Linked DNA regions of Homo sapiens: region 1 is linked to region 2. The links come from fine-mapping of genetic effects on gene expression. A gene starts in region 2. The other region holds a variant in brackets. All regions are shown on one strand. Distances are from middle to middle. Region 1 has its middle 34 kb from the start of CTSH. Region 2 holds the start of MORF4L1 (mortality factor 4 like 1).

Region 1 (8,336 bases), 39 kb before region 2:
AAAAGTTCCATCTGCATAGATCAAGCTCTTATTCATTAAGCACCTAGTGCAGGCCAGGCTCTGTTCTGGCACTCCAGTCATCTGACTTCCTTTAGTCCTCCCTCCTGGTCTATGAGGCAAGATAGTCCCATTTATAGAAGAGGAAGCTGAGGCTCAGTGAGATGATGTGGCTTGCCCATGGTTACAAGCCATAGGAGAGGAACCTGGGGTGGTCTGGGCCCTAGCCAGCACATGCTCCACCCAACCAGACGCCTGTGACAAGGGCTGGATTCCTCAGTACGGGAACCTTCTCTTTGGTACAATTGCTGGTGGCCTCTGGGAGTGATTCAGGGGCGTGTGCAAAAATGTCCACTCCTGCAGAGCCGGGTGCAAGTTGATTTGCCCCCTTTTGTGAATTCAGCCACTACTGGAGGGCACAGAAGCTACCCTGCTGGGGACCAGGCTGAAGAACTTCAGCAGTCCTAAGATCTGGGAAGATTAAGCCCCTTCTCCTACTTAGATATATGTGTGTGAATAAAATGTAGAATAAATGTATATTGCTTGAAATGTCACAAATGGGCCAGGCATGGTGGCTCATGCCTGTAATCCCAGCACTTTGGGAGGCCGAGGCAGGTGAATCACCTGAGGTTGGGAGTTCGAGACCAGCCTGAGCAACATGGAGAAACCCCGTCTCTACTACAAATACAAAATTAGCCGGGCATGGTGGCGCATGCCTGTAGTCCCAGCTACTTGGGAGGCTGAGGCTGGAGAATCGCTTGAACCCGGGAGGTGGAGTTTGCGGTGAGTCGAGATCTCACCATTGCACTCCAGCTTAGGCAACAAGAGCAAAACTCCATCTCAAAAAAAAAAGAGAAAAAAAAGAAATGCCACAAATGTACATGCATGCAAAAATTAATAGCTTCCTTCTAGGTTGTCAAATTCTAGCTAAGATCACTGAAGAAGAATTTAGGCTGGGAGTAGCCTTGTTCTGGGTGTGTGGTGACCAACCAGCCCGATTTGCCTGGGACTGAGAGTACTTCTGGGACCTGGAACTTTTAGTGCTATTAAAACTGCAAAAAACCTCAGGAACATGGCCAGGCAGGGCTGGCTCCAAGGGCATATGACCAGTGAAGTCATACAGCACTGGGGTTTTAATGCTCTGCCGTCATCATCTTAACATGCATAATTATTTTCTCTTTGAACATGTGTTTTTGTAAGTGAGTCCAAGGGGACAACTGGAGCACATGCCAGGGGGCGTGGAGCCTTGGCTGACACGTGTTACCACCTCCCACCACCTTCCTGCCTCTCTTGGCCAGTTTCTGAGCCACTCACTTCTCTAACACATGGCAGAAGCCTGAATGAGAGATCGGGAGGATTTGGAGCCAGGCACGCACGCTTCATAGCAGCTCAGGATGGGGCATGGTGGTGGCTACCCCTGACCCAGGCTGGCAGCTCTATGGCACGCCAGGTTCAGTGGGAGTGAACCTCTCACCCGCCCGATCGAGATATAAAACACGTTCCAGCACAGAGGCTGCAATCCCTGTGGGCCACCTGTCTGCATGAGTAGGAACAGCAGGTCCATGGAAGGGGGAGACTGACTTCCTGCCCCGGCTAGGTCCAGGTATTTGTTTGGAGGCTGATGGGCCATGTGTACATGGAGTTGCACAGCAGGACCCCAGATGCCTATGACAGCCTGTACCTGCCAGGCAATTCTCCCTATGTCCAAGGGAGTACAATATTAAATAACACATGGAAAACACTATGAGAGGTCAAGAGAGAGGCCACAGGAGAAAAGAAAATATGTTGTATTTTCTCATACCTTTAATGGCACTGGTTTCCTGCTTTGTTTTTTGTTTTTTTGAGACAGAGTCTTGCTCTGTTGCCCAAGCTGCAGTGCAGTAGCGTGATCTCAGCTCACTGCAACCTCCACCTTCCAGGTTCAAGTGATTCTTATGCCTCAGCCTCCCCAGTAGCGGGGATTACAGACGCACACCATCATGCCTGGCTAATTTCTGTATTTTTAGTAGAGACGGAGTTTTGCCACATTGGCCAGGCTGGTCTTCAACACCCACCTCAGCCTCCCAAAGTGCTGGGATTACAGGCATGAGCCACTGTGCCCAGCCTGGTTTCCTGCTTTTTGAACAAGGGGCCCCGCATTTTCACTTTGATGCAGCCAGCTGTACCAACAGAAAGTGGTCACCCTATTTGGGTCCACCTGCCTTGTGCTCTGGTGTACATAAAGCCTTCATCTGCTCTTGGGGTCACTAGCCCTGCTCTTGGTGGCCACCTGTGCCAGACCCCTCATCCAGAACATGTGCTAGGTGGAGGCCCAGAAACTGATTCAGGAATCCTCACTGGCTTCCAGAGCAGAAGGCATTCACAGCTCCAGCAGGAGCCATGCCATCATTCGTGGGAATTAATCATCACCCGAACACAAAGAAGGTACAAAATGGTGGTGGCCTCTGGTTGCCTGGGTTCAAATTCCAGCTCAGCCATTCACTTTATCACCATGAGCAAAAATCAATAAAAACCTACTCCAGTGTCCTTGCTGTATTATGCTGGACTATGCTATTTCACATTTATTACTTCCAGCCCTTACAATGACCTATAAGGTAGGATTTATTAATATCCTCATTTTACAGGTGGGAGAATGATTCACTTTCCCAAGGCCCTACAACTAACGCAAGAGAGCTGGGATTCAAACCCAGGTCTAACTCCTAAAATCTTTACTGCTCTTCCTCCTTACTTCCCAACTCCTGCTGTGAGCCTCAAAAATGGAGGTGAGACTAACACCTTCCTCACAGGATTACAGCATCTACTTGACATAATGGGTGTATGACCTGAAATTTTAAGGTCAAAGTATTTTTTAGAGATGTAGCATTGTTCTAAGGCTTCCAAATAAACAGATCATTACGTTTCCCACGGTAGAGTGACATTAGGATAAAACCCCAGCTCACAAGCACCACTACAATGAACCAGGAAGACCCCACCGTCAGCAATAAACCAGTCTCCATTACATGTAATTACACAAAAAACCAAGAGGCCAAATTCAAGTCATTCGTTATGAAATGCTTTTTTCTTTACAAAGTAAACATGCATATTGACTCTTATGGGTACACATATATTCTTCATTACAGAAACTCACTGAACTAATGAATGAAATCAGCAATCTTACTCTTAACTTCCTGTTACAACACAACTCCTGAGGTTTTTCCCCTAGCAACATCAAGAAATGCCAAGCTCATCTCAAAAGTTAAGCTGAATGGAAGGTTTACCTGGTTCCCACCAGCAGTCACTTAATTCAGTTACGGGTTTTGAACTCAGGATGAAATATAAACTTTTTTAAACAGACAATCATTATACATGTTTATGGGGTACAATGTGATGTTTCGATATATGTACGCATTGCAGAAAGATTAATCAAACTTACATATCCAACACCTCACCTACTTACCCTTTTTTGTGGTGAAAATGTTTAAAATCTAGTCTTCTGGCTATTTTGAAATGTATGGTCACCATACTGTGCAACAGATCTCTAAAATGTCTGAAACCAACATCTTTGACCAATATCTCCCTTTCCCTATATCTCCCCCTCCGACCTCTGCTAATCAACATTCTACTCTCTGCTTCTATGAGTTCAACTTTTTAAAATTCCACGTATAAGTGAAGATCATGCGGTACTTGTTTTCTGTGTCTGGCTTATTTCACTTAGCATAAAATCCTTCAGGTTCATCCCTGTTATCACAATGGCAGGATTTCCTTTTTAAAGGTTGTATAGCATTCCACTGTGTATATATACATTTTCTTTAGTAATTGTTCCTAGCATCCAAACAGCACTCAGAGTTTAGGTAAACACAAGAGTTTCAGCATGAGGCTGTATTAGCCTGGACTGACTTGGAGAGCGGGGCCAAAGGCAACTTGCATGAAGGACCACAGGGCCTCCTGGGAAACAGCAACCATGGGGGACAGAGGAGGAAGCATCCCACCAGCTGGTTAAGAATACTGAATCAGGGCTGCAGCCCTTGTGGTGACCCCGCCCAAGGGCACTCCTGGCCTGCCAAGCCCAAAGCCCCTGCGCCAGAAACCTAAGGAGAAGATGGTAAAACTGACAGAGTAGGCCAGGTACGGTGACTCACGCCTGTAATCCCAGCACTTTGCGAGGCCGAGGTGGGCAGATCACAAGGTCAGGAGTTCAAGACCAGCCTGAACAACATGGTGAAACCCCATCTCTACAAAAATACAAAAATTAGCCAGGCATGATGACGGGTACCAGTAATCCCAGCTACTCAGGAGGCTGAGACGAGAGAATTGCTTGAACCAGGGAGGCGGAGGTTGCAGTGAGCTGAGATTGCACCACTGCACTCCAGCCTGGGTGACAGAGTGAGACTCCGTCTCAAAAAAGAAAACTGACAGAGCAATTTCCCCTATGCTCCTGAGGGACTCTGAGAGCCTACAGAGATGCTGGTCTTTTGACTTCTATCAAAGGGCAAGAGAGAAGCCCTTCCTTCTTGCGAGTGAAGCAGGTTAATCAGCTCAGCTCAAACACTGGTGTTTTCTTGGTTTAACAGACACTTTTTAT[T/G]GGCCAGGCACTGCACTAAGAAATATACAGCACACTAACTCCCCACAGCAACCCTGTGAGGTAGATACTATCATGATCCCCACTTTCACATGAGGAAGCCGAGGCACAGATTGGTTAAGCAACTTGCCCCAAACCACAAAATTGCTTAGTGGCAGAATCAGGGTTTATACCCGAGCCCTCCAGCTCCAGAGTATCTGTTCTCAGCCTCCCTCTCTGCTGCCTCTCCAAAGAGGATGCAGAGTCCTTAGGATTCTTAAAAAGTCTGAAAGTGATTCAAAATGACTATGCTGTGAGGAGACCTGGCCCTGCCCGCCAGGCCCAGGGTGGTAACTGAGCTCCATCTACGTAACTCCATCTACGGCACTGCCCCATCTAAGGCCTGGTGGGTTCCCTCCTCCTGTCCACCTTGGTAAACAAGTCCTTTATCAAGCTCCCCTCACAGTACCCAGTAGACTGTGTTCTTTCTCAGGGAGCCTAGCCGATACAAGGGAGTAGCTGAAAGGTAATATTATGGGATGCTTTTTAAAAAATAGTTCTTGGCATATTTTTAAAACATTTTAAGGGAATTATGCAAATGTAGAGTGATAGAGTAAGTCTAGGCTAGAGACAGAGAACAGATTTTCATTATTATGGGAAAAATCATGTGACCAACTTCCCGTGGTTATGTGAATGTAAAGTCAGTGTGTGTTGTTCTAGGGGAATGCTATACACAAGATCTCCGGTTTGCTGTTTGTAGTTCAGCAAAGACGATCTCTCTCGGGATTCCAGGGTGCAAGGTGGACCAATTTGCACAGGAACCCAGAGATGAAATTGGGGACAGCCATTCGGGTGGTCTGGGATGCGCTGAAGCAGGCTCACGGCAGGAAAAGATCTTAAGGGGACTCCCTCAGAAGGGAGGGGAGGAGAGGAGGCTGGCCCCAGTTCAGGATCTAAAATTTCACAGAGGCCAGGTTCGCACAGTGGGTAGGCTGAGTGAAGCTGCTGCAGGATTGGAAACTCTGGTGGGTGTCCTACTGTGAGGGATGATGGCTGAACATGAGGTGGCCAAGAGAGGAGCAGCTTTAGGGCACTGGAGTAGGATGCCACCTCGGCCCTGTGAAGGTGGGCGGAATGGGCTGAGCCCATGGATTGTGGGGAAACCCTTACAACAGCGACACCTTATGGCCACTATGGTAACATAATGCGCACATCTAATTTTCTGGTCTCCCAGTATGGCTTCAGAAAGACTGGAATTCTTGGATAATGAAGAGAAGGGTGATCAAGGGGGAAGGATGAGATTCTCTGCCTATGGAAGTAAAGGCTTGCACAATCCTCTGGAAAAGTAAAAGTGCAAGAATGTGTCCCAAGTGGACACAGGTTGTACCAGGAACCTCCAGGGTCCCAGATCAGTCCACCCAGAGTGAGTCCTTGTGTCTCCGGCTCTGGGGTCAGAAAGGGCAGGTTGACTTAGTTCCTGAAGGAAACCATGTAGCCCTCACATATGTCACAAGCATAGAGGAAACGTGCTACCTTTATTGCTCAGGTTCACCAGGGAGCTTTGCAATGCTGAGACCATTCCTAGGCCCAGGACAATCTGCCATTAGCTCTGCCCATGGTAACTTTATGCCACAGAGCACCAGGTCAAGGACATACCAAACTTCCCTCTTCACACACAAACACACAAACACGCACACACTCAGAGGTTTGTCTAAACTTAATCACCCCTAGACACACCACCAGCAACCACCCAAACCCCTCCCCAGGACTGGAAGCATATCCCAGGCTCAGCTGCCCTTCTCTCTCTCCCCCAAGGCTGCATCACAAACGCACATGCTTCTGTTCTTCTGAAACCAACCATTCATCTCACATTTCTTCTTCCTCATTTTCAATTCTGATTTTCTTAATTGTTTCCAATATTCTAAATGTCAAGAAATAAATAAGTGTAAAGACTACTGCATGGTGGCTTGCACCTGTAGTGCCAGCTACTCAGGAGGCTGAGGCAGGAGAATGGTGTGAACCCAGGAGGCAGAGCTTGCAGTGAGCCGAGATTGCACCACTGCACTCCAGCCTGGGCGACAGAGTGAGACTCTGTCCCAAAAAAAAAAAAAAAAAAAAACCAGTACTTTCAACCACAGCCCTTAACTAGCCTGGCAGCTTCCATTTCTTATCTCTTTGAACCCTCACTATTGGAGTCCTGAGATACCATGTAATTTTGGAGTCCTGAGATACCAGCCTGAGGCTGGCAAGTCACAGTATGAGATGTGCAAACCATGCAGAGAAGCCCTCAGTGGTTGAGATGCTGTGTCGAGGAAAGAGGGGCCAAGGAACACAGAGGTACGAGATACATGAGTGAAGAAGCCATCTTGGAAGCAGATCCTCCACAATTTCAGCCACGGCAGCTAACGCCAAATGGATCAAAGATGAACTGCCCAACCAAGCCTATCCTGAATTCATGATTCAGAAAGGTATGAGCAAAACAAAATGGTTGTTTTAAGCTATAAAGTTCTGGGACAGTTTGTTAGCGCAGCAAAAGACAGCCAGAAATCAAATCTCATGTAAAGCTTTTCAAAAAAATCAAAACAATATAACCACAATTGTGTTTTAAAATAAAATGGTAATCCCAGCACTTTGGGAGGCGAAGGCAGGCGGATCACTTGAGGTCAGGAGTTCAAGACCAGCCTGGCCAACATGGTGAAACCCCGTCTCTACTAAAAATACAAAAAAATTAGCTGGGTTATGGTGGCACACACCTGTAATCCCCGCTACTCGGGAGGCTGAGGCAAGAGAATTGCTTGAACATGAGAGGTGGAGGTTGTGGTGAGCCAAGACTGCACTGCACTCCAGCTTGGACAAAAAAGCGAGACTCCGTCTCAAAAAAAAATTTTTTTTTAAATTAAAACAAATAAATAAAATGGTGCTTCTGCCTGGTCCTTTGGAAAAGCCTGCCCCAGTAAAACAAGATTTGGCCATTTGCCTTTTTGTAATCCTTCCTCCATCTGGAAGAAATATAGAAATGTGATAACTATAACAAGGAGATACTGCTACCTCTCAGCTTGGGCAATTCCGAAACCCCCAAGAGGTGATTTATATGTGTTACAAGGAGCAAAGGAGGAGAATGAAGGCAAAACTGTTCTGGGTGCTGGAACCTCTGAGGCCACTTCTGAGCATCCCCCCTCTACCCCCAAAATAGAGACTGGACCCAACAGCTGCTGTCAGGCAGCTAACAGAACAGCAAGCCACCAGGAAGGAGGAAGACCCTTCCCCCGCACCACCCCCCACCCCCGGCCCCCGACCCTTGCCTTCCAGTGTCCCTCTAATGCCCTCTACTGGCAGAACCTAACAAGAAGCCAGCTGACAAATAATTTAGGGTCCCAGCCACAGGATCACAGAGCAGGATTTAGAGCTGAGATCCAGTAACTTCATAACCAACTCAGTCCTCCCCTTAGGATGCTAGGCATCCATATACACCCTTCCACACATATTTTAATCACCACATAACACCACCACTTCATGCTGTGGCCTAGTAAGATACAATATCCTTCATACAAAGGTAGACACTCTCATCCTCTTCACCAGTGTCAACAGTCTGTATCCCTCCCTGTGCAATGTTAATTACTTTTCTAATTCAAATGTAATCCCATCTGATTATTCTATAACATGAAAAAAGGCACAAAGCTGTTATAGTCCTTGTCTTCATCTTGTCTTCATAACTGGTCGTTAAGACCCTATGTAGTTGATATTTCTTCCTCTTCCTGCCTGTTCCATGTTTCCTTTGCTCTCAGCCAGCACCTCAGCTGTT
Region 2 (8,336 bases):
GAATCGCTTGAACCCAGGAGCTGGAGGTCGCAGTGAGCAGAGATCACACCACTGCACTCCAGCCCGGATGGGAGAGCAAGACTCCGCCTCAAAAAAAAACCACTAAAATTTAAAATATTTTTTAAAACTATGTATTTTCAAGCCCCACCAAAGACCCATATTATTAGACTCTCCCAGAGCACGACCTATTAACTTTATTTTTAAATCAGTTCTATAATTCTTTTAAGTGGTCACTCTATAAAGAATCACTGCTAGAGGCTGCTGGACCTACGAATAGCATTTCTGAATTAAAGACGGAGACTGGAAAACGGGAAGATCAAAGACTTCTCCAACGGCCCAGGAACGAGAACTAAAATGGGTAAACTATACTGCTAATAAACAGCGAACAAGATCAGATCAGATCTGTGTTTCCTAATTTCACTCTCCTGGTACATTTTAAAGGCACTCTGAAAATGGCCTACCATTTTTCTCCCCTTGGCTGCTACTGCCGGAAAAAAAAGTGCACTGAAACCGAGGCCCTGTGACCTCCATTCTAGCTACGAGGCCCTAGTATTTTGTTGAAAAAATATACAGCTAGCTGAGGAGTATGACCCAGGACAGCAAATGCTCCGTCTCAAAATCTAAACAAAACAAAACAAAAAAGAATTTCCAATGGAAAACCAAGTCCAGTGCAAAGCAATCACTATGCCTTAAGAATTGCTTATACAACATATATTGCACGCCATTATCAAATAAAAAAAAACTTTTTTATAAGTTTACGAGTTGTTTTTTTTTTAACAAGTTTACAAGAATCATTAAAAACCCTATTTCTCGGCCGGGCGCGGTGGCTCGCACCTGTAATCCCAGAACTTTGCGACGGCGAAGTAGGCGGATCACGAGGTCAGGAGATCGAGACCATCCTGGCCAACATGGTGAAACCCCGTCTCTACTAAAAATACAAAAATTAGCTGGGCGTGGTGGCGCGTGCCTATAATCCCAGCTACTCAGGAGGCTGAGGCAGGTGAATCGCTTGAACCCAGGAGGCGGAGGCTGCAGTGACCCGAGATCGCGCCACTGGACTCCAGCCTGGGCGACAGAGCAAGACTGTCTCAAAAAGAAAAAAACAAAACAAAACAAAAAAACACTACTTCTCGCCACTCTTTTCTCTACCATTACATAAACTCTACAGTGTTTCAAGACGATTCTGTTAGCACTCATCAAATATTCTTTTTCCCTTGCAAGATATTCTCCGATCATCTAATTAATAAATTTTTTTTTTTTTTGAAATGGAGTCTCACTCTGTGGCCCAGGCTGGAGTGCGATGGCAGGATCTCGGCCTACTGCAACCTCCGACTCCCGGGTTCAAGCGATTTCCTGTCTCAGCCGCCCGAGTAGCCGGGATTACAGGAGCCTAACACCACGCCCTGCTAATTTTTGTATTTTTAGTAGAGACTGGGTTTCACCAGGCTCACCAGGCTGACCAGGCTGGTCTCGAACCGCTGACCTCAGGTGATCCACCGCCCCCACCCACCTCGGCCTCCCAAAGTGCTGGGATTAGAGGCGTGAGCCACCGTGCCCCACCCACTAAAATCATTTTTAAAACGTGGTTACACAATTCCATTTTAAACACAAGTACAAAACACACCTGGAAAGTAATGTTAAATACAGACTCTCTTACACAGCTTTCAAACCCTTACCTGGGGATACCTTGGTTCCTACTCTTCTCCAATTACCCCACTTAAAACGGCACAAGGAAATCTCTGCTGCTACTCCTCTCTTAACTAGCAACCCTCTAGAACTAAAGCGCTTCTTCCAGAACAGCCATCCTTAGGTTGTTCCCACAGCAGCGATTAACTTTTTGTGCCTTGACAGTCTGATAAACCCTACGAGCCTAATAGTTTCATAAATACATAAAACACACACTAGTACAAAGGAAACCAACTGTACTGAAACAAAACACTTTAAATGTCACGTTCTATGACATTACAGGACAAACAAGACTTGGCTGCTAATACAATAACTACCCTAATTTTGAAGAAATAAGAATGCGATAACTGAAAACATCTTCCATAACTGTAATGTTGAGATATGAAAATATACTGAAAATGCTAATGTGGTGGTTTTTTTCGGGGTTTAGGGGGAGCAATTACACTGTTAATTGAAATACTAAACTTGGGAGATAGAAAAAAAAATCTTCCTCAATTTCACGCACCGTCTCAATTAATGCACTGACTCTAGATTAAGAATATCTGCTCTAAAATGTCTAGTAAAATAATGAACCCATAGGAGGTAGAGTCAACAGCTTCTCAAGGTGAGAGAGGGGTATTAAAAGTCACACGGCCGAGAGCGATGCCTCACGCCCGTTAACCCCCCACAACTTTGGGAGGCCGAGGCGGGTGGATCGCTCAAGCCCAGGAGTTCGAGACCAGCCTGGGCAACATGAAACCCCGTCTCTACCAAAAATACAAAAAAAAAAAAAAAAAAAGAAAGAAAAAGAAAAGAAAAAACAAAAACCCTAAAAAACAAAACAGAACAAAACAAAACTTAGCCGGACGTGATGGCGCGCGTCTGTGATCCCAGCTACTTGGGAGGCTCGCTTTAGCCCGGGTGGGGGGCAGAGGTGAGCCGAGATAGCGTCACTGCACTACAGCCTGGGTGACAAACATCGTCTCAAAAATACAAACAAAAAAAGTCACTCATTAACAAAATACCCCTAAAACCTCCTTAAATATTCCATAAACTTAAAATACGCAGTACTACGGTTTGAGGTTTACGGCTCTAAAAGGAATTCTAATGCAAGTCTAAAAACCCCTAGAACAAAAATCGTACGCATGTAGACATCGTATTTACGGTAACTAGCATAAATTTCCATAGCAATGAAAAGGAATGTTAAAGTGTTCCTCCTTTCTCAACAGGACTTTACTTCCTTTTTAGCTATTAGACCTCCACCTTATTATACGTTAACTGAAGCGTTGTGAAAATTTAAAGAGCTGCCTTCCACTGGGAGTCAGTCTAACCTTACCCAAAACTCATGTCAATCGAAAACCAATTAATAAAAAGAAATTCAACTTTCAAGTCATTGTTAAACACTGCAACTAATCAAACAATTACTGCATTTAAAAAATGACGTCGAGGCAATGGGACTTACAAATGCAAACGGCGTCAACACTGCATTCAGATCATTTTTATTTACTTTTTACGAGCAACTGCAAAGCGAGAGCTCACTCACATTACCATAGGATCTCGGCACTGCGCCCAAGAATAGCAGAGTGATGCCTCCAGGCAACACAAAGCGGAGGAAAACGCTCATCTCACTTTTTTTTTTCTGTCCCCACCCACCACTCTGTGGTATGCGGAGGGCCCCGGCAACCTTCTGGTCGTCGTGGAAGGGGGCGCTGCATCTGCCCGTAAGCTGTGCCTCCATACGGGACCGAGACGCCGGCGGCCATGATGGCGCCGCCATCTTGCAACGGCCATTTTACAACGCACTTCTCCCGCCCCGTGGCGCCAAACCCACCCCCATCCGCAGCTGAGTTGCCACCGAACGCAACCACCCCGGGGCTCCAGGAAGCACCGAAAAACCCGTCGTAGCTGCCCAAGCGGCCGGGCGCGCCGCAGGACCGCCCGAAACAGCCACCGCCCCTCCCCCCCCGCCGCCACATCACTTCCCCTAACCGCCGCCATGGCGCTCCCGTCGCCTCCCTACAATAGGCTGCTCTCTCCGCGCCCTCTTCCTCAGAACAATAACAAACACTTGACGAGGGTGTGCCACGCGCCAAACGCTCTCTCTCCCACTCTAACGCCTGCGCAGCACTCTCGCTTCACAAAGCGCTTTCTCACAATGACGCACCGGAATTGCCATCCGCAATGCGCTTTCCCCGCACAAAGCACTGACCGCCGCCTTCTCAGGGCGCAGCCCGCGCCGCCCCCGGCCCTCAAGCCTCAATCACCTCGAGCCCGCCTCTATCTCCTGCGCCGTTAGGTGCCTTTTTCCCAAAGGCGCACACTCACCCTCCTGGAATTTAGGCTTCGGGTCCTGCTTCGGCGCCATTTATAAGTGATTCGCCGCCTCCTCCTTCTCCCACCACCCCCGACTACCGCCCCCTACTCTCTACCCCACCCAACTCCGCGTCAGACGCGCCGTCAGGCACTGCCAGCTCTACATCCTGGGCCGGATTTGCCAGCGCCCGCAGACCTCACAGCACCGCGACCCGCGCAGCCGCTGCTCCAGCCAACGACAGCCCGCCGCGCACGCGCCCCTGCGCCCGCGCCGCCCCAGGGCACGCCGGGACTGGTAGTTCGGAGTCGGTGGAGGCGCCCCCCCCCCCCCCCCGGGTGGGGGAGGGGCCGGCTACCCTACCCCACCCCACCCCCGCTTCTCTCTCCATGCCCCCGGCTGCTGCGGGTTGGTAAAGCGGGGATTTGATTTCGTGGGAGGTTAAGGCGGAGCTGGCGATGGGGGAGAGTGGGGGTGGTGAGCCACCAGTGATAATAGAATGGGAAAGGCCCAGTTGCGACGTCCCTTGGGCAAATAAGCCCCCGTTGATGTTGAAGTAGTCGGAGAGAATAGGGCTGGCTCGGAAACCTACATTCAATAGCATTCCGCTAGTTTTTGCATAGAAAGGCTTTAGGATCAGCAAGAGGGTGGGAACTGGGGTCCGCTTCTGGAAGCTTCGTTGTTTAGCAACCCCACTGCGGAGCCTATTTGGTGGGATTGATAGCCATTTGTTGGCTCCTAGGTCTACCTCCTCTTCTCCAGCCCAGCCTTGCGGAAATGAGGATGATGACGTGGGAAACACTAGTCACGCTTTAGCTTTTTGAGATAATGGAGCTCTGCTTTCTGAAAAAGGCTAGTGTGAATATGTCAACGTCTGTATTCCGTACCTGCCCTGTTTGTGCTTCTTGTCACTCTAAACAAACGGATTTCTTCAATATTATACCTTTTTTTTTTTTTCTGAGATGGAGTGTCGCTCCGTTGCCCAGACTGGAGTGCAGTGGCGCGATCTCTGCTTACTGCAGCCTTCGCCTCCCAGGTTCAATCGATTCTCCTGCCTCAGCCTCCGGAGTAGCTGGGATTACAGGCATGTGCCACCACGCCCAGCTAATTTTTGTATTTTTAGTAGATACTGGGTTTCACCATGTTGGCCAGGCTGGTCTGGAACTCCTGACCTCGTGATCCGCCCGGTTTGGCCTTCCAAAGTTCTGGGATTACAGGCGTGAGCCACCGTGCCTGGCCTAAACAAACGGATTTATGTCGTTCCCTGTTCAAAAACAACTTTGTTGGCTAAGCTGCAAAATAGCACCATTTCCGTCAGTTTATTGTGAGAATTACATATACGGGCTTAGCGCGGTACCCAACAATGAATAAGTGCTCAATGAACTTTAGACGATAAATCTCAAAGTCCTTAGCCTGGTATTTAAATCCTTCCACAAACAGCCCTTAGCCTACCTGCATCCCCTATGTAAACCTTTATCCTCCTACGCAAACCTTTGTCTCCATGACTTTTCTTTTTTTTTTTTTTCTTTCTGAGACGGAGTTTCCCTCTTATTAACCAGGCTGTAGTGCAAAGGCGCGATCTCAGCTCACTGCAACCTCTGCCTCCCAGGTTCAAGCGATTCTCCTGCCTCAGCCTCCCGAGTAGCTGGGATTACAGGCATGTGACACCACACCGGGCTAATTTTTGTGTTTTTGTAGAGATGGGGTTTCTTCATGTTAGTCAGGCTGGTCTTGAACTCCCGACCTTAGGTGACCCGCTGGCCTCGGCCTCCCAGAGTGCTGGGATTACAGGCGTGAGCCACTGCGCCCAGCCTGTCTCCATGGCTTTTCTAAGCCCTCCCCTGCCCGGGTTCCACACCCCACCAATTCCGGGCCCCTCTCCATTTATCTGACTTCCATTTCTCCTTCAGTCTTTTTAACACAACCCCTTCTCTGACAACAGAAACCCACAAAAACCTTCCTTATTCCAGTTGAATATACACCATCTTGTCACGACTACTTCTCGCAAGCTTGTCCAACCTGTCTTATTTTGTTGTTGTTTTGTTTTGTTTTGTTTAGGCTTTTAGCACCCTGAAGCCATGGTTTTTAGTTTCAGTCTCTAGTGATAAGTGGAAAAGGGGGATGAGGAAGGGGCTTTACTGGCCCAACCAGAAACAGAAACTAAGAACCCATGACTGTATTCACTCCCTTGGACACCATTGCTAAATTGTAAAAAGGGACAAGGGCTTCTTTGGACCCCACCCCACCAAAACTGTCCTGTACACTTTTAAATTTTTTATTGAATATAAAATACGTACTTTTTTTAAATTATTTTTTTGAGACAGTCTCGCTCCGTAGCCAGGCTGGAGTGCAGTGGCACAGTCTCAGCTCACTGCAACCTCTGCCTCTTGGGTTCAAGCGATTCCCCTGCCTCAGCCTCCTGAGTTGCTGGGACTCGGTGTGCCATCACGCCCAGCTACTTTTTTGTATCTTAGTGGAGATGGGGTTTCACCATGTTGGCCAGGATGGTCTCGATCTCCTGACCTTATGATCCTCCTGCCTTGGCCTACCAAAGTGCTGGGATTACAGGCATGAGCCACTGCGCCCAGCCAATTTTTTGTTGTTGTTGTTGTTATGAGACCAAGTCTCACTCTGTCACCCAGGCTAGAGTGCAGTGGTGCAGTCTCAGCTCACTGCAGCCTCCACCTCCTAGATTGAAGCGATTCTTCTGCCTCAGCCTCCCAAGTAGCTGGGTTTACAGGCGCATACCACTATGGCCGGCTAATTTTTGTATATTTAGTAGGGATGGGGTTTCACCATGTTGGCCAGGCTGTTCTCGAACTCCTGACCTCAGGTGATCCACCCGCCTCGGCCTCTCAAAGTGCTGGGATTACAGACGTGAGCCACTGCGCCCAGCCTGCACATACTTTTTTAATCCAAACGTTTAAAAATACAAAAATGAAAATAGTGGGCCGGGCGCGGTGGCTCACGCCTGTAATCCCAGCACTTTGGGAAGCCAAGGCAGGCGGATCACGAGGTCAGGAGATCAAGACCATCCTGGCTAACACGGTGAAACTCCATCTCTACTAAAAATATAAAAAATTAGCTGGGCGTGGTGGTGGGCGCCTGTAGTCCCAGCTACTCAGGAGGCTGAGGCAGGAGCATGGCATGAACCCAAGAGGCGGAGCTTGCAGTAAGCCGAGATTACGCCACTGCACTCCAGCCTGGGCGACAGAGTGAGGCTCCATCTCAAAAAAAAAAAAAAAAAGAAAATAGTGAAAGTCTCTTTCCCACCTCCACCCCTCATCTGCCCAGTTCCCCCACTGTTATGAGTTGTTTGGGAATCCATGAGTTTTTTTATCCTAGAACCCTCTTTGTGTTATTTCTTCTTTTGTATTGAAGTTAACTTATTTGCCTTTATGTGTTAATTACACAGGTAATATTCAAATATTTGGGCTCATGATGCAACAATTGAGAAATATAAAATACAGGGCAAAACTTAAGGAACATGTTTATTCCCCGCTCCCCCCATTTACCTTCCCACCATTTGGCGTGTGCATTTTTCTCCATTTTTTTTTTTTAACCATAAATGGTCTGTACATATTGTTCAGTTGCATTCTTTTTTTTTTTTTTTTTTGAGACGGAGTCTCGCTCTTTCGCCAGGCTGGAGTGCAGTGGTGAGATCTCGGCTCACTGCAACCTCCGCCTCCCGGATTCCAGCGATTCTCCTGCCTCAGCCTCCTAAGTAGCTGGGATTACAGACGCCCGCCACCATGCCCGGCTAAGTTTTGTATTTTTAGTAGAGACAGGGTTTCACCAAGTTGGCCAGGATGGTCTCGATCTCTTGACCTTGTGATCCGCCCGCCTCAACCTCCCAAAGTGCTGGGATTACAGGCGTGAGCCACCACGCCCGGCCCAGTTGTATTCTTTTTTAACATAATAATATATCTTGGAGATTGTTCAAATTACATACAGGCCTATCTCACCTTTTTTTTTTTTTTTTTTTTGAAACAGCGTCTTGTTCTGTCTCCCAGGCTGGAGCACAGTGGCATGATCATGGCTCACTGCAGCTTGCAGCTCCTGGGTTCAAGTGATCCTCCTGCCTCAGCCTCCCCAGTAGCTGGGACTACAGGTGGATGCCACCACACCCAACTAATACTTTTATTTTTGCAGAGATGTGCTCTCGCTATGTTGACTGGGCTGGTTTCCAACTCGTAGCCTCAAGTAATCCTTCCACCTCTGCCTCCCAAAGTGGTGGGATTACAAACATGAGTCCCTCACATTTTCAATAGCTTTCGACATACCATAGTATAAATATTTCAAGATTTATCTAATCTTTGTGCACATTGCTTTTTCTTTTCTTTTTTTTTTTTAAGAGACA

Evidence for each region.
Region 1: its variant is fine-mapped to the expression of MORF4L1 in whole blood (TOPMed, PIP 0.98).

What each region holds. Positions count from the first base shown.
Region 1 is chr15:78,907,350-78,915,685 of GRCh38, reverse strand. No RefSeq gene overlaps it. Among named protein-coding and RNA genes, the nearest start is that of CTSH, 34 kb to the left of the region's middle. The variant T/G (reference allele first, on the strand shown) is at 4,559.
Region 2 is chr15:78,868,712-78,877,047 of GRCh38, reverse strand. MORF4L1 (mortality factor 4 like 1) reads right to left here and starts at 4,158. Exons shown (of 12, transcript NM_006791.4): 1 at 3,991-4,158. The coding sequence starts at 4,030. RefSeq lists enhancers at 480-1,081, 3,307-3,546, 2,940-3,571 and silencers at 2,546-2,655, 3,657-3,716, 4,127-4,386.